4 linked regions of the Homo sapiens genome follow. The protein of the gene in region 3 interacts with the protein of the main gene of each other region in a pairwise test. Each region holds a gene or a part of one and is shown on either strand. Other genes may lie near its edges. The genes, in order: ESCO2, PRAM1, FXR1 and TBC1D22B.

Region 1 (6,858 bases), on a different chromosome or scaffold from region 3:
CACTCCAGCCTGGGCAACAAGAGCAAAACTCCGTCTCCAAAAAAAAAAAAAACAAAAACAAAAACAAAAAACTCACCTTTAACAAGCATATAGAGTAGCAATAGAATAGAAAGTGCTATAAGTAAGTAAAAAAATGGCATTCATTTATTCAACAAGCATTTATTGAGAACTACTAACCAGTCACTACGTTAGGGAAACAAGTACAGTAGTCCCCCCTTATCTGTGGGGGATGTCTTCCAAGATCTCCAGCAGATGCCTGAAACCGAGGACAACACTGAATTCCATATATAAAGGGACTTGCCACATAATGATGCTTTGGTCAGCAACAAACCACACATACTATGGTGGTCCCATAACATTATAACGAAGCTGAAAAATTCTGATCACTATTGCCTGATGACCTGGTAGCCATCATAACAGCGTGGTGCAACTCACTTTTTCTACGTTGAGACCCGTTTAAATACACAAACACCATTGCGTTACCATTGCCTACAGCCATTCAGTACAGCAACGTGCTGTACAAGTTTGTACCCTAGGAGCAACGGTATACTGTACAGCCTACATTTGTGGTAGGCTATACCACAGGTTTAAGTATACTCTACCGTGTTGCTACAACAATGAAACCGCCTAATGGAGCATTTCTCAGAATGTATTCTTGTCATTAAGGGACGCATGGCTACTGGTATTCCCTATATATGTATACCTATGATAAAGTTAATGTATCAGTTCGGTGGAGTAAGAGATTATTGACAATAACTAATAATAAAATAGAACGATTATAACAACGTACTGTAATAAAAGTTAGGTGACTCTGCTCTCTCTCTCTCTCAAAACCTTATTGTACTGTACTCACTCCTTTTCTTCTTGTGATGATGTGACCACGGAAAGCGAAATACAGGACAAGTAGGGACTACTGTAAAGAGATCCTGTCCACGCCCTCAAGGGACTTACACTCTAGCTCAAGCAGACACCATTTAATACCACGTGATAAGTGCAATGCCAAAGGCATACTTGGAACGTTAAGTGGGTCCCAGGAAAGGAATAGCTAAGCAATCTTGGGGTAGGAGCTAGCATCAGGAAAGGCATCTTGGAAAAGATGGGCCAAAACTGTCTTAAGGGAATTAGCTGGGGGTTGATTTTAGGAAAGGGGAATAACAGGAACAGAACGAAACCAAGTCGGGACACTGCATTTCCTGGGAACGAAGGGCACCCTTTCCTTATCTGTCAAAGATAAGTCAGAAGCATTACCATAGGTCACTTCTGAGATCTGGGACATCAACTGCCCGGAGAGTGGCTGGGTGGACATCCCAGGGTCTTTTTATTGTTTTCTGTTGCATCCCAGACCCTACAACCCCTTCCTGAAAGGGTAAGTCGCGCTTCCCTTAAGAAAAAGTTGTTAGCAGGTGTCTCCTTTCTCACAGGGGATAATTACAAGGGTTCAGCCAGAACAAAGGCCGCAGATGGAAGGTGGGAAGAAGACTTGGGATAAGGTGTGTGGAGGAGCCCACAGGCTCTGCCCAATCCCAGGGAGTGACGGGACGTCTTTCCGATTAGGGGACGAGAACTCCCCGATACAAACATAGCAGTGGCATCGCCCCTCCGCGCCCCCCACGCCATGACGAGGGGACGCCGGGGGAAATCCTGCAGCCGTGGGAGGGACGGATGTGCTGGGGGACCGAGAGGCCGCGGGAAGAGGCACTCGCATCCAGAAGGCATTTTAGAGCGAGGGTCAGGCGCAGCGGCGGACTGCGGGTCCCGGCTTCGGAGCCCGCTGTCCAGCAGGGTCCAGGAGGACGTGGCGCCCACTCACCGCTGCTGCTGGTGAAGTAGAACACCATGATCCCGGGAGCGGTGCGGTGACTCCACCGCGGAGCAGCAGCGCTCAACTCACGAAGCTCAGGATACCAGACTCGCGGCGGCCGCCTGGCCCCCGGAACTCCTCCGTGCACTTCCGGCGGACGTCGGGGCGCGTCATAACGCCGGCCGTGGGCGCCATTTTTAATCCTGGCGAGGCGAAGTGTAGTGGCAAGGAGTTTGGTTCAGTGATTTGTGGGTTAAGGGAAAGAGGCTGGGCATCTTGGGCACGTTAGTTAACCTGTCTGTGCTTCACTTTCCTCAGCAGCGAAATGAAGATGATACTAGAGCAGCTAACTCACAGGATATTTTTTAGGGTTAAATAAGTTAATGGGCGCCAAGGGTTTAGAACATAGCACACAAACGAGTTGTTTCTGATACTCACCAGGACAATATGCCTCTTGGGGATTGGACTTTGTTCTGGCTTAAATCGAAGGCCTGCCATCCCAAACCTCTGAACCTCAGAGGTCCTCCTGCTATAAAGTAGGAATAATCATATTCATGTAAAGCTCCTACAGCACTTGGCTTTGCCCTGATTATTTCTCTTGAGAAAGCACTTTTATCTGAGGAATGTGAGTCCCTTTAAATTACTAGGTCTGGAGAGGCATTAAGATAAGACCCCATCATGTTCTACCACCCCCTTGAGCTATGTATTCATCTACTGAAACTACCTGCTTCTGCCACAGGTAGCTACCTACTAACCTAACACTGCCACACAAGACACTATGACATGACCCACACCCTATAGTTTAACAATGTCTAGCCAATCACTGATGCTTGTAGTTTCTATACATCAATGAGAATGCTTGACAGTTGTGTATCAGCCCACTTCCTGCCCCCCTTCTTCGTCTTTAAAAACCTGCTTGTAGCAAAGGCCAGACAGAGCTCATATCCAAGCCTGCTGGTGGAGGGCGGTGGGGGGAGGGGGGTTGGAATCTTCTGGGCAGCTGTCCCCGCTTTAACTCAAGCAAACTCTACATTCTTTTTTTTTTTGCCTCAGCCTTTTCCTTTTAAACTGACACTCTTACATCACTGTCACTGACTTCATTCTATGAAATTGAGGGCGTCACTTAACGAAATTTATTTACATGCTTGCTTTGACAGCATGTATACTAAAATTGGAATGATACAGAGAACTTTAACATGGCCCCTGCTCAAGGATGACATACAAATTTGTGAAAATTAAATTTGAAAAAATAAACATAAAACTCTAAACTTATTTGAAACTAAAAATGTGCCAGAAACACTGTACCAGGAGCTGGTGACACAAAGATAGTAACAATAGCTAACAATAACCGTTTTAGGAACTTTCTGGTTTTCCAAAGTAAGAATTTAGCTCTGTTCTGTAAATAGCAATTGTTTTGGGTTCTCCGTTGTATTATTTGTAAAATGGGAATGGCAATAGATATTAATGCCTTACAGATTGTGGTAAGAAGTAAATGAAACAAAACATGTAAAGCATCTAAGAATGCCTGGCACATAGCAGGTGTTAAGTTTTATATTTTAATTTGAAAAATAAATAGAAACCTAAAGTTACTAATAAAAAAAGTGAAACTGACAATGAAGCTTCAAATGTGAAAAATAAGTGCATCGAGAATCTTGGAGAGGCCTTTATTTATTTATTTATTTATTTATTTTTGAGACGGAGTCTTGCTCTGTCGCCAGGCTGGAGAGGCCATTTTACAAAAATTTCTTACCCCGTGACCCCAGAATGTATCTCAACTTCAACTGGACCGAGAACTACAATTCCCAGAATGCACCTAAACAAGGCCCCGGGAACGGAGTCCGGCGTTGCTGCAGGGGATTGTGGGTGGCGTGGTTTCCCTCAGAGATTTTTCACCTCACCAGGGCGCGAGAATCTTGGAAACAGCCACCAGGGTGGGCGGGGCAAGGGCTGGTGCTCCACCAATCACCGAGCCAGCCCCTGGAAGCGCTGAGCCGTGGCCAATCGGAACGCAGCGGCTTCCTCCTAGCCTGGCGCGCGATTATTTGAAGACGCTCACGGAGCGGCTGGCTAGGCTGAGGAGAGCTCGCCGGGCTCTGAGGCGCAGGTAACCTCTGGAGTAGGCCGAGGCGGGGGGCTGTGGAAGGCTGAGGCGAGCGGGAGACCCTGTGGAACGTGGGGGCGAATGTCACGGGGAAAGAGCTTTTGCTCGGCGCTCGGCAGGTCCGCAGGCCCGAGACCGAAGAAGCCACTGACTCGTTCTCCGCGCTCACAGGCGCCGGGTTTCCCTCTTCCCGACGCCGGCGTTTCCTTGTTTTGGGTTTAGGGTTTGTTTGTTTGTTTGTTTCCCTGACCGGGTTCAGGGTCGGGACGCTTTCCTCTCCTACCTTTCCTCGCTTAGCCCCAGAGGGGTCCCCCCTTAAGCCGCAGCTCGACCTGAATTCCCAGAGACCCTGGCCTTTCAGTTTGTTCATTCATTAATAGCTTTGAAATAACGCTTGTGTGCTGCTTTGGGGGGAATTTCCCTGATCCCAGGGAAGGGGAAGGAAATGAATTCTGACGAGCCACGTAGCCGCCTGCTCGTGCATTCTAGCATTTGTTTTCAGCAGCCTTACGACTTCAAGAGATTTTTATAAAAAGGGAAGCAAACGGCTTGCTCCGGGCTCATCAGCTAGGAAAATGGCAGAGGACTGTGCTTCACCCGTTTTCTTGCTGGGCTCTGATGAAAAGTTACAGACGGTCTCTGCCTTCATTGAAGGCTGTTGAGATGGGGAAACAAGAAAATGTCTTAAATGGACTATTAGGGAAATACAGGGTGCCATGGAAGCAGAACAAGCGCGTGTAACCCTTGGAGGGGTGGAAGGAGAGCAATGTCGAGGAAGACCTCCCAGAAAATAGGGTTTTAACTTGGTGTGAAATAGACTAATTAAAGGGGGTATAATTTTGATAAAGCGATTTTTAATATTTTGATGAATGTGGTTATTGTCATTTCTTTTAGGAATTCAATAAAGAAAATGGCAGCTCTTACTCCAAGGAAGAGGAAGCAGGATTCTTTGAAGTGTGACAGGTGAATCTCAGCCTGTGAATAGAAACTCTTAGAAAAATCCACCTTCTTGTCTCTCTTGTTCTCTCCTATTTTCTAAAATTTTCGTTCTTCCACTAGCCTACTCCTTGTGGCTACAGTGATAACCTGATAACCTATATTCTAATTCTAGCTTGGAAATACATTAAGTTTTCATAATGAATTATTTAGTCCTTTTCAAGGGAATCAAAGCTGTTTTTTAGTTTTTGTTTTTTTCTTTTGACATAGAAGCAGCACATTGAAGAAAGCTGTTTTCTATAGCTAGGAAATATACCAAATCAGCTATTACCTTTTTCCTTTCTGTTCCCCTATAATATTTTACAGTGTTTTGCATACAGTAGATGCTTGTCTGGAAACAATTCTAGAAAGACTGTGTACTCAGATATTAATTACTCTACCCAGGAAAAGCCCCAGGGGGTCAGTTCATTACAGACAGTTATTATAGGGGGCTTGTAAACAATAGAGCAAAATATATGAGCTATAATTTATATATGGCCAACACATAGAAATCGATTTTAAAACATACATGCATATATGTCTATCATAGCTTCTTTGTATATAGTATTTGTTTTCATGAACTCTTTGGGAAGATATTTGAATGTTTTATTTGATAAAGACAGAATTTGAGAATCCTACTGTTAAACTAATAGAAAATTGTGTGTATGGGGGGTACATGTATTGTTTTTAATATGACCTACAAGTAGAGCTTACTTAGCAGTAGATTTATGTAAATTTTGACGCAAAATAATCTTATCAATGGACTTTGTTTCTTTTTATAGCCTTTTACACTTCACTGAAAATCTGTTTCCATCACCTAATAAAAAGCACTGTTTTTATCAAAACAGTGATAAAAATGAAGAAAACCTGCATTGCTCTCAACAAGAGCATTTTGTTTTAAGTGCGCTCAAAACAACTGAAATAAATAGACTGCCATCAGCAAATCAAGGCTCACCATTTAAATCTGCGCTCTCCACTGTATCTTTTTACAACCAAAATAAGTGGTACCTCAATCCACTGGAGAGAAAGCTGATAAAAGAGAGTAGATCTACTTGTCTAAAAACTAATGATGAAGATAAATCTTTTCCCATTGTGACAGAAAAAATGCAAGGAAAACCAGTCTGCTCCAAGAAGAACAACAAAAAACCACAGAAGAGTTTAACTGCTAAGTATCAACCAAAGTATAGACACATCAAGCCTGTATCAAGGAATTCTAGAAATTCCAAGCAAAATCGAGTGATCTATAAGCCAATTGTGGAGAAGGAAAATAATTGTCATTCAGCTGAAAATAATTCCAATGCTCCTCGGGTTCTGAGCCAAAAAATAAAACCACAAGTTACACTCCAGGGTGGAGCAGCATTTTTTGTTAGAAAAAAATCTTCTCTTAGAAAATCGTCCCTGGAAAATGAGCCGTCACTGGGACGCACCCAAAAGAGTAAATCAGAAGTCATTGAAGATTCTGATGTAGAGACTGTCAGTGAAAAAAAAACTTTTGCGACAAGGCAAGTGCCAAAGTGCTTGGTCCTAGAAGAGAAATTGAAAATTGGACTACTGAGTGCAAGCAGTAAAAATAAAGAGAAATTAATAAAGGTAAAGCTAAATATATCACTTTAAAAATGGCTGTATAACAAAACTTCAGTATAAATGACATAGTTGAATAAAATTTTATTTTCTGGACTGCTTTTATAAAGCCAGATAGCATAGTGTTTAGTTACTGTAAGGAGTTTATTTATTTATTTATTTTAAGACAGGGTCTTTCTTTATGACCCAGGCTGTAGTGCAGTGGCACACTGCTCACTACAGCCTCAACCTCCTAGGCTCAAGCAATCCCACCTCAGCCTCCCAAGTAGCTGGTACTATAGATGCACACCACCTCACCCGGCTAATTCTTGCATTTTTTGTAGAGGCTGGGGTTTCACCATGTTGCCCAGGCTGGTCTCGCACTGCTGGGCTATAGTGATCCACCTGCCTCACCCTCCCA
Region 2 (7,052 bases), on a different chromosome or scaffold from region 3:
TGAAAAACTAAGGCAGAAGGGAGGATGAGGAGAGGCTGGCCCATGGGTACAAAGTTACAGTTAGGAAGAAGAAATTGGGTGTTCCATTGCACAGGAGGGCAATGATAGTTGACAGTAAAATATCATGGCCAGGCATGGTGGCTCATGCCTGTCATCCCAGCACTTTGGGAGGCCAAGTCGGGCAGATCACTTGAGGTCAGGAGTTTGACAGCAGCCTGGCCAACATGGTGAAACCCTGTCTCTACTAAAAATACAAAAATTAGACGGGTGTGGTGGTGGGCGCCCATAATGCCAGCTACTCAGGAGGCTGAGGCAGGAGAATCGCCGGAACCTGGGAGCTGGAGGTTGCAGTGAGTCAAGATGGCGCCGCTGCACTCCAGCCTGGGCGACAGACCAGGACCCTGTCTCAAAATAGTAAATAAAAATAATTTTTAAAAGATGCTGCTAGGGTAAGCGTCCTGGACTGGTGACTGATGATGAGACTCTGGACTGAGGGGTCTCCCATGGTGCCAGTCTCCCTGTGCCACTTCCTGGCAAATGACCAGGCTCCCAAGTCAGAGCCCTGCTGGCCAAGGAATTGGCTTCAGGTGGGAGCCCCAGGAACCCTGGTGAGTGAAAGATCCAGAACCCAGAGCCCCAGCATGTCCTTTCCGAATGGCTCAAAGTATCCCGCCGGACATTTCAGGCCTGTAGTCCCTCCAAGCAGCCCAAGGAGCAGCACCTGAATCGTGCCCGCCAGATACCAGGCATGGCCATCCACAGTCTCACCTGGAACACACAGCCCCTCCAGCTGCTCCTGCCTCTCAGAGGCTTCCCTGGCCGTGAGCAGTCACTCCACCAGGAGCGAACCTGACCTTGGCACTCCAGGGTCCCTGCAAACCCGCCACATTAGAGCACCTCTTGGCACCGCCATGCAGGCAGCCCTGGTTCATCCACAGCTGACCCAGAGCAGGCCTCTGCCCGCCTTCCCCGCATGGCCAGCTCAGATCCCTGGGAAAGGCTGGGCTCTCCCCACCTGCAGAGGAGCCCCCTGCCTTCCAGGAACCTCTGCAGTGGAGCTGCCACTGCTCCAAGTAAGGCAGACAGTGGGAAAGGGGAGTCCAGAGTCCTGGCCCCAAGAGACCTAAGCTGCCTTTGAGAAGCTGCACCCACAGTGAGAAGCCCACGCCACTCCTGAGAAGCGGGAGATCCAGGGAAGTGGGACCTTTTTTTTTTTCTTTTTTTCTTGAGACAGGGTCTCGTTCTGTTGCCCAGGCTGGAGTGCAGAGGTGCAATCTCGGCTCATTGCAGCCTCCATCTCCTGGATTCAAGCGATCCTCCCACCTCAGCCTCCCCAGAAGCTGGGACTACAGGTGTGCAACACCATGTCCAACTAATTTTTGTATTTTTAGTAGAGACGGGGTTTCACCATGTTGGCCAGGCTGGTCTCGAACTCCCAACCTCAACTGATCCGCCTGCCTCCACCTCCCAAAGAACTGGGATTTTAGGCATGAGCCACCGCGCCCGGCCCCTTTTTTCTTTTTTCCTATCAGAACCTCAAATGACTGGCAAGGAAGGGGGAGAAGGTTATTTGGTGACAGGAACAATGGGCCAAGGGTGGGGACTGTATGAAGTTTGAGGAGAGGCAGATGCTCCTAGCCTCGGAAGAGGTGGGGGATTCCAGCAGGGCTTCTGGGAGTGGTTGGAGGCAGGCTGTCACTAGCCCAGGCGCTCAGCAGCCCCACTCCTGGCCATCCGCATCCCCAACGGTGGCCCCCAGACCCAAGCCACAGAGCCTCCCCTAGAGCGGAAGCAGAAGGGGCCCCACCAGGAAGCTGTGTGCTCACAGGGAGGTGTTGCAAGAAGCTCAGGGAGAAAGCCCAGGAGAAGCAGAGGGGGCCTCTCTGCCCCAGGCCCTCTGAGGCTGTCAGCGAGAGCAGGAGCACCTTAGAAGCTCAAGCTCTGGCCCCCGCTGAAAGCCCTGCCACAGATCCAGCTCGTGGACCAGCTGTGCAAGCCAGGGCAAGCCCCATCCCAGAGCCTCAACCTTGCGTACCTATTTTTTTTTCTTTTTTTTTTTTTGAGATGGAGTCTCACTCTGTCACCCAGGCTGGAGTGCAATGGCAGGATCTCAGCTTACTGCAACCCCTGCCTCCCAGGTTCAAGCGATTCTCCTGCCTCAGCCTCCCAAGTAGCTGGGATTACAGGCGCCTGCTACCACACCCAGCTAATTTTTTGTATTTTTAGTAGAGACAGGTTTTCACTATGTTGGCCAGGCTGGTCTTGAACTCTTGACATCAGGCAATCCACCCGCCTTGGCCTCCCAAAGTGCTGGGATTACAGGCGTGAGCCACTGCGCCTGGCCTTTTTTTTTTTTTTCAACTGAGACAGACACAGAGTCTCACTCTGTCACCCAGGCTGGAGTGCAGCGGCGCGATGTCAGCTCACTGCAACCTCCACCTCCCGGGTTCAAGGAATTCTCCCACCTCAGCCTTCCGAATAGCTGGGATGACAGGTGCATGCCACCATGCCCGACTCATTTTTTTTTTTGAGATTGAGTCTCACTCTGTCGCCCAAGCTGGAGTCCAATGGCGTGATCTTGGCTCACTGCAACCCTTCCTTCCCAGGTTCACGCGATTCTCCTGCCTCAGCTTCTCTAGTAGCTGGGACTACAGGCACGCACCACCACACCTGGCGAATTTTTGTATTTTTAGTAGAGATGGGGTTTCTCCATGTTGTTCAGGCTGGTCTCGAACTCCTGACCTCAGGTGATCCACCCGCCTCGGCCTCCCAAAGTGCTGGGATTACAGGCGTGAGCCACCACGCCCGGCCCCAGCTAGTTTTTTTATTTTTAGTAGAGATGGGTTTTTGCCATGCGGGCCAGGCTGGTCTGGAACTCCTGACCTCAAGTGATCCGCCCACCGGACCTCCCAAACTGCTGGGATGACAGGTGTGAGCTGCCACGCCGGGCCAGCCTTGTGCATCTGTAAAATGGGGGTGCATTGCCTTACTGCCCTGTGGGGATTTGGGAGTGGAGGGTACGGATTTAGGGACAGGCAGGCAAGGTGCTTGCCTGGAAGCTGCTTGTGTTTTCATGAAGGCATTAACTTTGGAGTGGAGGGTACGGATTTAAGGACGGATTTAAGGACAGATTTAGGGACATGCAGGGAGTGGAGCGTACAGATTTAGGGACAGGCAGGCAAGGTGCTTCCCTGGAAGCTGCTTGTGTTTTCATGAAGGCATTAACTTTGGAGTGGAGGGTACGGATTTAAGGACAGATTTAGGGACATGCAGGGAGTGGAGGGTACAGATTTAGGGACAGGCAGGCAAGGTGCTTGCCTGGAAGCTGCTTGTGTTTTCATGAAGGCATTAACTGTGGAGCTGGGCAGGAGGTGCGGGCCTGCTCCCTATTCACCCAGCACAAACTTCTAAGAAACCTTTGGCAGCCTCCCTCCCCTGCCACTGCCACACCTGCCTGCAGGCCACACCTCCCCCTGAGTTTCAGGCCCAAGTTCTGCCTGGACATCCCCTCAGCTACCTTGAACACAACAGGTCTAAGTAAATCAGGCTGGGCGTGGTGGCTCACGCCTGAAATCTCAGCACTTTGGTAGGCTGAGGTGGGCGGATCACGAGGTCAGGAGTTCAAGGCCAGCCTGGCCAATGTAGTGAAACCCCAGCTCTACTAAAAATACAAAAATTAACTAGGCATGGTGGTGGGCGCCTGTAATCCCAGCTACTTGGGAGGCTGAGGCAGGAGAATCGCTTGAATCCAAGAGGCAGAGGTTGCAGTGAGCTGAGATGGCACCACTACACTCCAGCCTGGGCGATAACAGAGCGAGACTGTGTCTCCAAAAAAATAAAAAATAAAAATATAAGGCCGGGCGCGGTGGCTCATGACTGTAATCCCAGCACTTGTGGAGGCTAAGGTGGGTGGATCGTTTGAGGTCAGGAGCTTGAGACCAGCCTAGCCAACATGGTGAAACCCCATATCTACTAAAAATACAAAAAGTAGCTGGGCTTGGTGGCACGTGCCTGTAATCCCAGCTACTCCAGAGGGTGGGACAGGAGAATCGCTTGAACACGGAAGGCAGAGGTTGCAGTTAGCCAAGATCACGGCACTGCACTCCAGTCTGGGCAACAGAGCGAGCCTCCATCTCAAACAAAAAAACGAATACATAAATAAATAAGGGTCAGGCGTGGTGGCTCACGCCTGTAATCCCAGCACTTTGGGAGGCCAAGGCAGGTGGATCACGAGGTCAGGAGATCGAGACCACGGTGAAACCCCATCTCTACTAAAAATACAAAAAAATTAGCTGGGCGCGGTGGTGGGTGCCTGTAGTCCCAGCTACTGGGGAGGCTGAGGCAGGAGAATGGCATGAACCCGGGAGGCGGAGCTTGCAGTGAGCTGAGATTGCTCCACTGCACTACAGCCTGGGTGACAGAGCGAGACTCCATCTCAAAAAATAAATAAATAAATGAATGGATGGATGGATGGATGGATGAATGAATGGAACCTAACATCTTGTCGTCAACCCAGGGGCGGCTCTGTCATGCCCTTGGGTGCTAGGCTTGAAACTTCCCTGCTTTATATACCACCAAATCCTGCTTTTTTTTTTTTTTTTTTTGAGACAGGGTGTTTGCTGCCCAGGCTGGAGTACAGTGGTGGAGTCACAGCCTCACTGCAGTCTGCAGTCTCGACCTCCTGGACTCAAGCAATCCTCTTGTCTCAGCATCCCAAATAGCTGGGACTACAGATGCTTGTCACACCTGGCTGATTTTTAAGTTTTTTTGTAGAGATGAGGTCTCGCTCTGTGGCCCAGACTGGTCTGGAATCTTGGGCTTACGGGATCCTCCTGTCTTGGCCTCACAAAGCCCTGGGATTGGCTCAAACGATCCTCCTGCCTCGGGCTCCCAAAGCTCTGGGATTACAGGCATGAGCCACTGCACCCGGCCTGATGCCTGCTTTTGATTACTGAATTCACCCACTGCTCCCACATCTCCTGCTGCCAACCTGGGCCACACCTCTGCCTACAACAGCCTTCTCACTGGTCCTTCGCCTCTGGGCTCCCCTTATGTAGTTCCACCCAGCAGGAGCCAGCAGGTCCTAAAATGTTACTTGCTCTTACACCAGGAGCATGGCAGAAAATGGCCTTGCCCCGAATGTTTTGCAGGGACTCGGGCAGGCCACCAACAAACCTCTGCCCTTGGGGCTGGGGCTGGAGTCATCTCTGGGTTCCACATCGTCATACAGCTCGTAGATCTCATCTGGGACCCTGCGGGGATACCTGAGATGAGGCCTCTTCTTTTTTTTTTTTTTTTTTTTTTTTTGAGACGGAGTTTTTCTCTGTTGCCCAGGCTGGAGTGGTGCAGGGGCATGATCTCGGGCTCACTGCAGCCTCCACCTCCCGGGTTCAAGCGATTCTCCTGCCTCAGCCTCCCAAGTAGCTGGGATTACAGGTGCCCCCCACCACACCGGGCTAATTTTTGTATTTTTAGTAGACGGGGTTTCACCACGTTGGCCAGGCTGTTGTCGAACTCCTGACTTCAGGAGATCCGCCCACTTCAGCCTCCCGAAGTTCTGGGAGCTCCAGGCCGAGATGAGGCCTCTTTGAGCCCCACAATCCGCACCCACCTCCGCTTCCTCCCCACACTCACTGCGGGATGTCTTCAGGCTGTCGGTCCTGGAAGTGGAGCCCAGCGGCCGAGCGGGTCCTCCGTAGATCTGTGGGGTAGAGAGTAGGGCAGGGAAGCCGGCACTGCCTGGGACCTCAGCCCCCGCTCCTGCCGGTGCCGCCCGCCCTCACCCACCTATGGATGCTGCAGAGGGTCTCCGAAAGCTCTGCATATCCACGGGCCCCGGGGGCAGCGGGGGCTTGGCTGGAGGGTGTCCCAGGCTGCTGGCAGGGGGCAGAGGCCTCCGCCGGGGTGGATGGCTGGGTCTGAGGCCTGGCCTGGCCCCTCCACTGTGAACCAGGCCTCCTGACCTCCAGCGGGGTGTCCCAGCCGCTCCAAACCCAGGGCTGAGCGGGTGCCGGGAGCTGAAGCCGGCCACGGCCGCAGGCAGTGAGCTCTCGGAAGCGGAGCTGGGGAGTGGAGGCTTTCGAGGGAGATCACCGAAGAACTCAGGCTGCGGGTGTCTCTTGAGGACAGCGCTGGGCTCAGGCTGTGAGAACTTGCGGGGTGGCCCCCGGCGCTCCGGCTGCAGCAGCTTCCTGGGGAGTGAGTTGAACTCGGGCTCTGAGGAGGTCCTGGGGAGGCCGCCCAGCTCGGGCTGCGGGGGCTTCTTGGAGAGCGCTTTGAATTCGGCCGGCCGCGGCCTCTTGGGAAGCACGCTGACTTCGGGCTCTGAGGAGGTCCTGGTGAGGTCCCCAAGCTCAGGCTGCGGAGGCTTCTTGGGAAAGTCACTCAGCGGAGGCTGGGAGGCCTTTTTGGGAAAGGCGCTGGAGTCGCGCTTCGGCTCGCTGGACTGAGGCTTCCAGAGGGGAGTCTGAGCGGCCTCGCTGAACTCAGGCTGCGGCACGGACTTCTTAGGGAGGCCACCGACCTGAGGCTGCGGAGGCTTTTTGGGGTACACGTTGAACTCAGGCTGCGCAGGCTTCTTGGGAAAGGTACTCAACTCAGGCTGCGGGGACCTCGGGGTAGCCTCACCGGCCTCGGGTTGCCAGAGCTTCCTGGGGAATGCGCCGGATTTGGGTTCGGAGGGGGGTCTGGCGGGGTGACTGAGTTCGTCGGGCTGCAGGGGTTTCCGGGCCGGCGCACCAGGCTCCGGCAGCGAGGCCTTCAAAGGGGCCTCACCGACCTCAGGCTGCAGGGGCTTCCTTGGAAACGGAGTGGCCCCCAGCTGTGGGAACTTCTTGGAGAGGTCACTCAACTCCAGTTTGGACGGCTTCTTGGGGAGGTCAGTGACCTCAGGCGGCGGGGGCTTCTTGGGGAGGTCAGTGACCTCAGGCGGCGGGGGCTTCTTGGGGAGGTCAGTGACCTCAGGCGGCGGGGGCTTCTTGGGGAGGTCAGTGACCTCAGGCGGCGGGGGCTTCAAGGACACTGCACCAAACTCAGGCAGCGGGGCCTTCTTG
Region 3 (7,052 bases):
TCAAATTTATAGCAACAGAAAATAGAATGATGGTTGTCAGGGGCTGTGGAAAGGGGAAAATGAGCAGCTGTCTAAAGGGTATAGATTTGCAGTTTTACAAGATGAGATGTACTGAAGATTGATCAATAATGTAAACATACTTAATACTAAGTGTACACTTAAAAATGGTTAAGATGCTAAGTTTCATATGTACTTTACCACAGTATAAAGAAAAACCCAAGAAGAAAAAACCACCGAAAACCCACATAAATTTTTTTAAAAAGGCCAAAACTCAAGTTTCTTAAGAAACAAAGGAAACTCATCTAATGTCATAAAATGAATGGGGAAAAGAAACTGTTTTATTCATCTATTTTATTAGTCTAAAACACTTTTCCAGATACAGGCAGATTTGTTCACATATCCCTTGTTCAGAATTTTTAAATTAATGAGAACATTTCCAAATTTGTCCTAAGGATAATAAACATATCTTAATTTCTCTGAGACATCACAGTGTGTGCATGCACATGTGTTCATCTAGATCTAGAAAGTGTGAGTGAGTGGGAAGAACAAGTATCCTACTAGTGTAGCAGGGAAGAACAGGACAAAACAGAGTACCTTAGGATAAGACAGAGATATAATGATAAGCTTAATATTTTAATACTACATGCCACATGATGCCTCACTCCTAGTCCTCCTCTCCTCTCACACAAGAGTTGTTACAGTGAACTAGTTACTGATGAAAGATATCATGACTGACAGATGACAAGGCAGTTAAAAAAATAAAAAGGTTAAATACAAAGTAAAGAACTAGCAATACAGTCTACTGAGTATCCCTAGTTTCTTAGCTCTTTGGCACCTGTCATCTAAGTCCTACCAACAAGTCAACAGGCATTTCGCAAAGGAAAGGCTATGTTTGATAAAAGGTAAAATGGAAAAGCAATTGTTCTACGGACACAACTCCAAACAGTCACGAAACAGAGGTCCTGGGCTGCCTTCGTTTGAAGCAAGGAACTTGAAAAATATAAAACTAAATGGGGGCCAGGTTCGGTGGCTCATGCCTGTAATCCCAGCACTTTGAGAGGCTGAGGCGGGCAATCACTTGAGCCCAGGAGCTCGAGACCAGCCTGGCCAACATGGCAAAACCCCACCTCTACTAAAATACAAAAATTAGCTGGGCTTGGTGGGGCACACCTGCAATCCCAGCTACACGGAGGCTGAGGCAGGAGAACCGCTTGAATCCGGGAGGTGGAGGTTGCAGTAAGCCAAGATTGTGCCACTGCACTCTAGCCTGGGCAACAGAGCCAGAATCTGTCTCCAAAAAACAAACAAAAACTAAATGGGACACAGAAAACTCTTTTGTAAGTAAACCCACTTACTTCTAAATGCTTAGTGGCCTCTTCATTTCTGGACATAAGCATCAACTTCGTACGAATACTTCGCAAATGCATGTCACTTAAGATGTTTACTCTCTTCACAGTTGCTTCACTGGCAGACTATAAACAAACAAGCTAATTACTCAAAACTTTAATCATTCTTCCAAATAGCACAAACACCATCCCATCTTCTATGCAAAGCCTTCCTTGCTTCTCATCTACTACACTTCTTTCACCTAACACTCACTACTCTGAGTAATCACACTTTCCTTTCTGAATTCCTGTATTATTTAGATCTGCTATTCAGAATATGTTTGATTGGGGAAAAATCCGGAATCTCACACATTAAGAATTTTATGATGTTAAGAATGTAATTAACATTTTATAGCTGCAAACAAATTTTTCTCCCACACTATATTAATAAATTCACTATACACTAAGTTGATCTTAGCTTTTCTCTTCTGAAATATGTAATTATAAAATCTGTGCAATATCCATTAATAAGCTACCTTATAATATGGTACTATCTTACCAGTATCATTAGCTGTGTTGTTTCTGGATGGTAAAAAATTCTGCATGCTCCTACTGCTTTCTTAAAATCTTTATGTGCATTTTCATTAGCACACCTAGAGAGAAATCAATTTATGTGTAAGAACTCAATAACAGATTAAAGTCAGAGGAGAGTCACAATACAAAGTCAGTGTTTCATTTTGACAAGCCCCACTAAAACCTTTGTTCATTAAGATGATTTTCCATCAGAAGGTTTGATTGGGCATTAGGGAAAATGTTTTGTAGGACTGAAAAATCTTCTTAATTCACAGAACAATTCAATAGTATATAAAATTACTCACGCCTCTCTCAAATCCTCAGGAACATCCACTGTGCATTTAAAGAAGGTATTTTTTTTGACAGTTTTATTTTGATTGACAGGCCGAAGTCGTTCAAATGTGACTATTTCATTGTAAGTAGCGTCACAAGCAGCATATTCAATGACATAAAACTAAAAGACATCAAAATACTTTAAAAATCCCATCTGAACAAAAATAATGAAGTTTAAATGAAGTTCTAATTACCTTGCTCAGCTTAACCAACGGACCCTCCCCCATGTGGCATAAAATACTAAGCACAGCTTAGCTACATCAATCTGATTTGCCTAAACTAGATTATAGGTTCTTACAAGCATGAACCTTGGCGGTCCTTACATGCTTGAGGTGTACCTCTGGAGAGCAGCTTTGGTGTTTGCCAATACAGAACACAAACAGAAATTAATGCTAATGGAAATGTCTGATCAACTATTTCTCAGGTAGGCTTTTAGAAATAAAACTAACAGTTGAAATAAGATTTACAAAAACCAAGCACTGAGGTACTTCCTTAGAAACTAGTCACAAAGCAAGTGTGAAGAGTACTTACTTCTCCTTTCATCATCCGAACTTTAGCCAACCACCACCCACATGGCTCTTGGTCATTTGCTCTTGAATATACCTGAGAAGAAAAAAAAATGCCTATATCCATTCATCCCAAAAGATTTCAATGCTGTAAATGACTTTTTATTAATACCCAATCCCAATAAACTTAAGAATGAAAAATGCTATTTTATTTAAATTGGCATATTAAATGCAATTTAAAGAAAGTGATATGTAACTTAAATTTACTACTTAAAAATAAAACTACTTTTTTGGGCAATTTAGCTTCTTAGAAATTAATTCCATATTCATGAGGTTTACTAAACATAAGTATTATTTTAAAGAAATGCTCTTACAAAGGAGTTTTAAATAATGTAAAACACAGGTCTTCCTGTTTCTGTCAACATTGTTAATATTAAAAATTGTTCTCAGAAAGTGATTAACGTAATTTTTAAATTCCATCGAGGATATGACATTTAGATCCCGTGCTAAAGAACCTAAATCAAATGTACTAAAATTGTTTAACTGAACAAAAAAATTACACACATTCAGTCCATCTAGCAGAATACATTAAGTATCTTACAAAATTCCTATCCAGGCCGGACGCAGTGGCTCACACCTGTAATCCCAGCACTTTGGGAGGCCAAGGTGGGTGGATAACCTGAGGTCAGGAGTTCGAGACAAGGCTGACCAACACGGTAAACCCTGTCTCTACTAAAATATAAAAATTAGCCGGGCATGGTGGCAGGTGCCTGTAATCTCATCTACTCGGAGGGCTGAGGCAGGAGAATCATGTCCAGAGGGTGGAGGATGCAGTGAGCAGAGATCACACCATTGCACTCCAGCCTAGGCACCTAGAGCAAAACTCCATCTCAAAAAAAACAAAATAAAAACTATCCACAAAAAAACAAGTCATATTCTTTATATCTATAAATATCAGTTTTATTAACGTAATAGGTCACAGAAGCTTTCACTTGGGATTAGAGTTATTTCTTATGACACAGCAGAGCTTCTTTAACGTATTATATTTTCAGTATAGAGAAAGGTAGAAAAGGGGGGCTGAGAAGAAACTAAAAACCAATAAAAACCAAGATTGACTGTCCTTGCAGAGATCATCAGGGAAACCTATCAGTGGCTGTTAACAGCCATCTGGGAGATAAACACAAACAACTAAAAACAAAGACTTTTAGAAAGCCTGAAGCTTCTATCAGGATGATTTGAGAGTAATCTTGGAAGTGGTAGGAATACTGGAACTGGAAATGAATAAACCAAAACCTACTAATGAACTTTATCGTATACCATGATTAGAAAAAAGCTATGAGAAAAAGCAGGAAGTCCAATATACCAATCAGGGTCCGTTAAACTCAATTTTAGCTTTTCCATTTCTTTTATAAACAGATCTAACTATTCAAAGGGATCAATATCTCATGACTTATATTCTTCCTTACGACATATTCCAAAAAACAAGAAAGTTTACTTCTCTAAGACTAGAACAGAACTCACCCTTATTCTGTAATTATTATATGTATCCACTGGGCCCTTTTATAAATGTAAGGTAGAATCTAGTGATCTTATTTTTCCTATATCTTGAAACACTTTACAATTTCATCAACATTCATCAGTTATTCTCAGCTATGCTTTAAATAAAGACTAAAATGGAACAGAGGAATGATGGCATCACCTAGAGGATACAACAGTGAAATAAACTGTTAATGTTCATACAGTTTCCTTACTGCATAGCCTGAGGTATCACATCTCTTTCAAAACAGTTCAAAAAGACCAAAGACACCATCCTTGTAGTCTGCTTTTAGCTACCGTTGACCAGTTGATAATTATGAATTTTTTTCACTCATAATTGCGAAGAGAAGAAAAATTTACAGAGGAAGGCCTTTCTAATTATTAGAGATATCAGACAACAGATGCAAAGAGTACTGATAAATGTGAAATTATCTTACAAAGCAAAACCTCAGACTATGAAGTCTGAGATGGTGACATCTTAGATGAATGTTCTCAATGTATTTCTCAAACGATGTATTTCTCAAACGATGTATTTCTCAAACATTGTTCTCAAACAATGTATTTCTAAGGAGAAGAGGGAAAGATGATGTGTATTCTCATCCAGTTAATGACTCAACTGAGACTCCATCATGCAAAATCCTCCAACAAGAACCCAGATCATCCTGGTTTGCTAAAAGGGTATATGACAGTATTCTTCCATCTTTTAAGATGTTTGTGGTCAGGCACGGTGGCTTACACCTATAATCCCAAAACTTTGGGGAGCCAAAGCAGGTCGACTGCTTGAGAGCTCAGGAGTTCAAGACCACCCTGGACAACATGATGAAACCCCATCTCTATCAAAAATACAAAAGAAATTAGCCAGGTGTCGTAGCGTGCACCTGTGGTGCCACCTACATGGAAGGCTAGGGTGGAAGGATTGCTGGAGCCTGGGAAGTTGAGACTGCAGTGAGCCAAGATTGTACCACTACACTCAACCCTGGGTGACAGAACGAGACCCTGTCCAGGGGGAAAAAAAAGGTAAAATAAAAATTGAAGATAAAATTTTAAGAAATGTTTGTGTGCCAAAATGTACTTCGTAAGTGGAAATGTCAAAAGCAGATGTGTATACAAAGGTAACTCGAAAAAGAAAGATAATGAAATGCAAAAATATTCAATAGATTAGTCAATCCAACTGACTAAATGTGCTAAAATTACAGCACAGAGATGGCTATCCCTTCTTCAATAGAATGAGATGTCATTAAAAGTTCCAAAGTATTCAAGGACTGCATTCTGATGATCCAACTGTAAGAATAACCAGAATAAGCTAGAATTTATTAGAGATATATTTTAAATCTGCTATCAATATTTATAAGATTGGTATGTTCTAGGTTCATGTATAACAGTGAGCAGTTAGTTACATTTAGAGAACTGCATTCATTGTAGATACATATATCATCAAAACCTGGAAAATATGAAAAAGTTAGATTTGCTATGTTTAAACCCTCACTAAAATGTCTAATAAGGCCATGCGTGGTGGGGCTCACGCCCGTAATCCGAGTACTCTGGGAGGCTGAGGTGGGCAGATCACTTTGGCTCCAGAGTTCGAGACCAGCCTGGACAACATGGTGAAACACCATCACTATGCAAAATACAAAAGTTAGCCAGGCATGGTGGCATGTGCCTGTAATCTCAGCTACTTGGGGGCCTGGGGTAGGGTGGAAGGATCTCTTGAGCCCAGGAAGTCAAGGCTGCAGTGAGTTGTGTTTGCTTCACTATACTCCAGCATGGAGTCAATAATGGCCTTTAAAAAAGTCTAATAATGGGGGGCACAGTGGCTCATGCCTGTAATCCCAGCACTTTTGGAGGCTGAGGCAGGAGGACTGCTTGAGCCCAGGAGTTTGAGACCAACCTGGACAACACAGGAAGATTTCGTCTCTATAAAAAAAATTTTTTTTTAATTAGCCAGGTGTGGTTGGTGCATGCCTCTAGTCCCAGCTACTTGGGAGGCTGAGGAAGGAGGATCACTTGAGACTGGGAGGTCAAGGCTGCAGTGAGCCATGATCATGCCACTATACTCTAAACTGGGTGACAGAGCGAGACCCTGTCTCAAAAAAAAAAAAGGTCCAATAACGACCTTACTACCCTTTCATTCTTTCTGCTACAAAATTATTTGGTAAACGATCAGTGATGACTGTTTTCCCAAGTATACTGAGGGTTACAAAAAGAATATTCTAGGCCGGGCGCGGTGGCTCACGCCTGTAATCCCAGCACTTTGGGAGGCCGAGGTGGGTGGATCACCTGAGGTCAGGAGTTCGAGACCAGCCTCAACATGGAGAAACCCTGTCTCTACTAAAAATACAAAATTAGCCAGGCGTGGTGGTGCATGCCTGTAATCCCAGCTACTCGGGAGGCTGAGGTAGGAGAATTGCTTGAACCTGGGAGGCGGAGGCTGCGGTGAGCTGAGATCGCGCCATTGCCCTCCAGCCTAGGCAACAAGAGCGAAACTGCATCTCAAAAAAAAAAAGAATATCCTAACAACCAAAAGAAGGTGCCCATTCGAGTAACTATCTCAGAGAGGCAGTTCGAATATCTCTTGTTAATGTGGGTAAATCAAGCCTCATTTGCTGAAAATGTTATGTCTTAAAACTACCTAACCCCCTTATTCTATTTTCACCAAAGCATAATCATTCATGAATCTGGCTTTCTAAATAAACCATCTCAACTGCCTGGAGGCTTTTCTCACTGAACGATGAAATGCTGAACTCCATTTTAAACTTAATATCCACTTCTGTAAGCTTCA
Region 4 (2,699 bases), on a different chromosome or scaffold from region 3:
CCTACATGGCGGCCATCTTAGTTCTTTCTACTCTGGTGGAAACACACTGAACAGGCAAGCCAGGAGGACACCGGGTCTCTGGTTCTGACTCTGATGCTGTCTTCCTTGGCCTTGGCTTGGATTTTCCTCTGCGAATGAGGGGGTTAAACTAGATATCTCCAAGTTTTCATCCAGCACTGAAATTCTAGTCTGTTTTCTACCCTCTATCAGATAACATACTTCTTTTAGATGAATGAAATAATCCATGTAAAGTGCTTCTCAAAGTGGTTGGCAAGTTAACTCTTTTTAGTAGTTTCATTTACCAAGTTACTCATTTTTGTAGTTTCCACAGTACCTTTCATAGATGGATGTCGGGTAAGTGTTTGCTGGTTGATCCTCTGCTGATGCCCTGCTCACCTCACAGAAGGCCTGACCACACACCTACTAGTATCAGCAAGAAAAACTCAAAAAGAGGAGACTCTTTAGGTTCCATGGACACATACAGGAGAAAAACCAGCAGATGGAGGAGGAAATACACCATTTATTTACAATTCTTTTCACTTTATCCACAATTTCCCATACAAACATAAAAACTAAAAAAATAAAACCACCACTTGGGAACACAAGTGTCTTTCTTTAATTAGTCCGGTTGAGGGAGGGTCTCAAGCCCTCTCACTCTATGAAGGAGACCACTGAGGCACACCGAAGGGGAAAAGGAAGAGGGTTGGGAAGAATGCCTGAGAAACAGCTCCAGATGAGAAACCTAACTCACACCGATGTGGTGGGGCCTCACTGGCAAAGAGACTTGAGGGTGTTACCCACCAGGGACACTGCTCGGCTTCCCAGGAGGATGACAGCTGCTGGCCCCCATCCCCCCACCCTCCACTACCAAATACCAAAACTCAAACAGGGGTCACACATCTCATGAGCTGTGTGGGGAGTGAAGGTGACAGTAAGGGATATGGAGTGCTGCTCTCTGAGAAGAGCCCCAAACCCGAGGGACACACAAGAAGCCCCTTTCCTTGGCACTGAGTCTTCAGTCACAGCTTCTGTCCGAATACAATGCTGAACTTGAAAACGTAAAAACAAAAGCCCTCCCCAGATTCCGGGGAAGGTGGGGATAAAAACACATAGAGAGGGCTTGCCCGCCTCTGCAGTCCCTTCCTGGGGAGGCTGCTAGGAGCAAAGGGCAGATGCTCCAGGAAAGTCTGGGGGTTGGGGGGCGGGGTGAAGAAAGGGGCGAGGAGGACTCTGAGACACTGATGCTTGGGATGGCTCCAGCTGCTCAGCTACTCACTTCAGCAGCCTCCCGTTCTACCCCTCACAGCAGGACACCCAGAACCAACCTGGAGGTGCTGAAGCCACCTTCCTGGCAACTTCCTCTGTGCTAGTGACCTAGATTGCTTTCACATGTTGATGCACATTATAAATATAAAATCATATCTGCTACAAAGAGGACATATATTTGTACATCTTTACCCATATACATAATAACACAATTTACACATAATATCTTGGAGTGGGTCATCATGGAAAAGGGGTCTGGAGAGCCCCTTCTGCCTCCCCTGCCCCAATCCCTCTTCAAGGGATGCTTATACACTTGGTCACTGGGGCCCTTCCCAACTAGTTTGATGGGGCTCGTCTGGACACAGAAATTCAGACATGTGACTAAATGCTGATGGGCATGTATACACATTCACACCCACACACACATGCAGACACCTGGTGAGAAAAGGAAAAATAAAATTCCTAGCCCTTGGGTGTAGGCCTCTTTCCAGAGTTACAAGCATCAGTGCCTCCTCCATCTAGAATAATGGTTTTAAAAAGCTACCCCTCACTGGCTCAGACTGGGGCAGAAGGGGAACGGCTAGGAAACCAGGAAGAGGGAAGAGGGGCCAGGAGTCTTTCGAAAATATAAGGCGTTTTTGACCTGTGATCAAATCAAACTATGTTCACAAAAAAAAAAAAGCAACGGTTATCAGTTGGGGCCTGTCCTTGTAGGGACAATGTGAGGTGAGACCCTGAGCCTTCCCCTTCTTTGTCCAGTTTCTTTTAAAGGGGCAGACAACCCTGTACCACCTTTTCTGTCCTCTCCCAGAACTGGGCCCATCCACGCGGCATGGAATACTGACAGTGGTCCAAGTGACACATCCAGAGACATGGAGTGGTGGATGCCAGAAAGTTAAGACCTGGGCGGTGGGTGTGAGCTTTGTACAACAGGAGTGGTTCCTGGCCGGGGTCCACGGCTCGCACAGTGGCCACAGTGATCAGACTGCCATCAGAGATGAAGGCAGTCTGGGTCCCCGGAGGAGACAGCACCTATCGGCGGTAGTGATTTGGGGCATCGGCAAACATGTACTTGAGTCTGTATGCCTCGGCGAGAAGCAGCCCAATTTCTTCGTTGCCCCAGTGTATTGTAGGTAGGTTCTGTAGCAGCATGAGGAGACCCTGGAATGCAAGAAAGGACTTTTATATCATACCAGACCGTAGACCATCAGACAAGTGAACCCATTCTTAGAGACCAAGGCCTAGAATGGGGCCCCTTCCTCCTGGCTCACACATCTCAAAGAGTCCAGCCTCCTTCCTCCCAAACAGTACACAGCTTTCAGTCCTAGTTCACCTCAGGAGGTCTTGAAAGCCTCTGCTGATTCTCTAGTCCACTAACACCTGTCTCTTTAAAAACATAAAAAACATAAATAGGGAATGACAACAATAAAGAT

What was found.
Region 1: the proteins of FXR1 (region 3) and ESCO2 interact in binary tests that used the Homo sapiens proteins (3 or more experiments, as listed by UniProt).
Region 2: the proteins of FXR1 (region 3) and PRAM1 interact in binary tests that used the Homo sapiens proteins (3 or more experiments, as listed by UniProt).
Region 4: the proteins of FXR1 (region 3) and TBC1D22B interact in binary tests that used the Homo sapiens proteins (3 or more experiments, as listed by UniProt).

The regions. Positions count from the first base shown.
Region 1 is NC_000008.11:27,770,703-27,777,560, forward strand, and holds the start of ESCO2 (N-acetyltransferase ESCO2), read left to right. Parts: upstream 1-3,851; 5' UTR 3,852-3,905; intron 3,906-4,796; 5' UTR 4,797-4,812; coding exon 4,813-4,865; intron 4,866-5,659; coding exon 5,660-6,467; intron 6,468-6,858. Other genes in the region: CCDC25 (coiled-coil domain-containing protein 25), read right to left, coding at 1,811-1,838. UniProt on the Homo sapiens protein: Acetyltransferase required for the establishment of sister chromatid cohesion. Couples the processes of cohesion and DNA replication to ensure that only sister chromatids become paired together.
Region 2 is NC_000019.10:8,492,589-8,499,640, forward strand, and holds part of PRAM1 (PML-RARA-regulated adapter molecule 1), read right to left. Parts: coding exon 5,788-7,052; intron 5,702-5,787; coding exon 5,635-5,701; intron 5,253-5,634; coding exon 5,176-5,252; intron 1-5,175. UniProt on the Homo sapiens protein: May be involved in myeloid differentiation. May be involved in integrin signaling in neutrophils. Binds to PtdIns(4)P.
Region 3 is NC_000003.12:180,943,647-180,950,698, reverse strand, and holds part of FXR1 (RNA-binding protein FXR1), read right to left. Parts: intron 2,835-7,052; coding exon 2,763-2,834; intron 2,353-2,762; coding exon 2,204-2,352; intron 1,979-2,203; coding exon 1,885-1,978; intron 1,473-1,884; coding exon 1,356-1,472; intron 1-1,355. UniProt on the Homo sapiens protein: mRNA-binding protein that acts as a regulator of mRNAs translation and/or stability, and which is required for various processes, such as neurogenesis, muscle development and spermatogenesis.
Region 4 is NC_000006.12:37,330,772-37,333,470, reverse strand, and holds the end of TBC1D22B (TBC1 domain family member 22B), read right to left. Parts: intron 2,428-2,699; coding exon 2,299-2,427; 3' UTR 501-2,298; downstream 1-500. UniProt on the Homo sapiens protein: May act as a GTPase-activating protein for Rab family protein(s).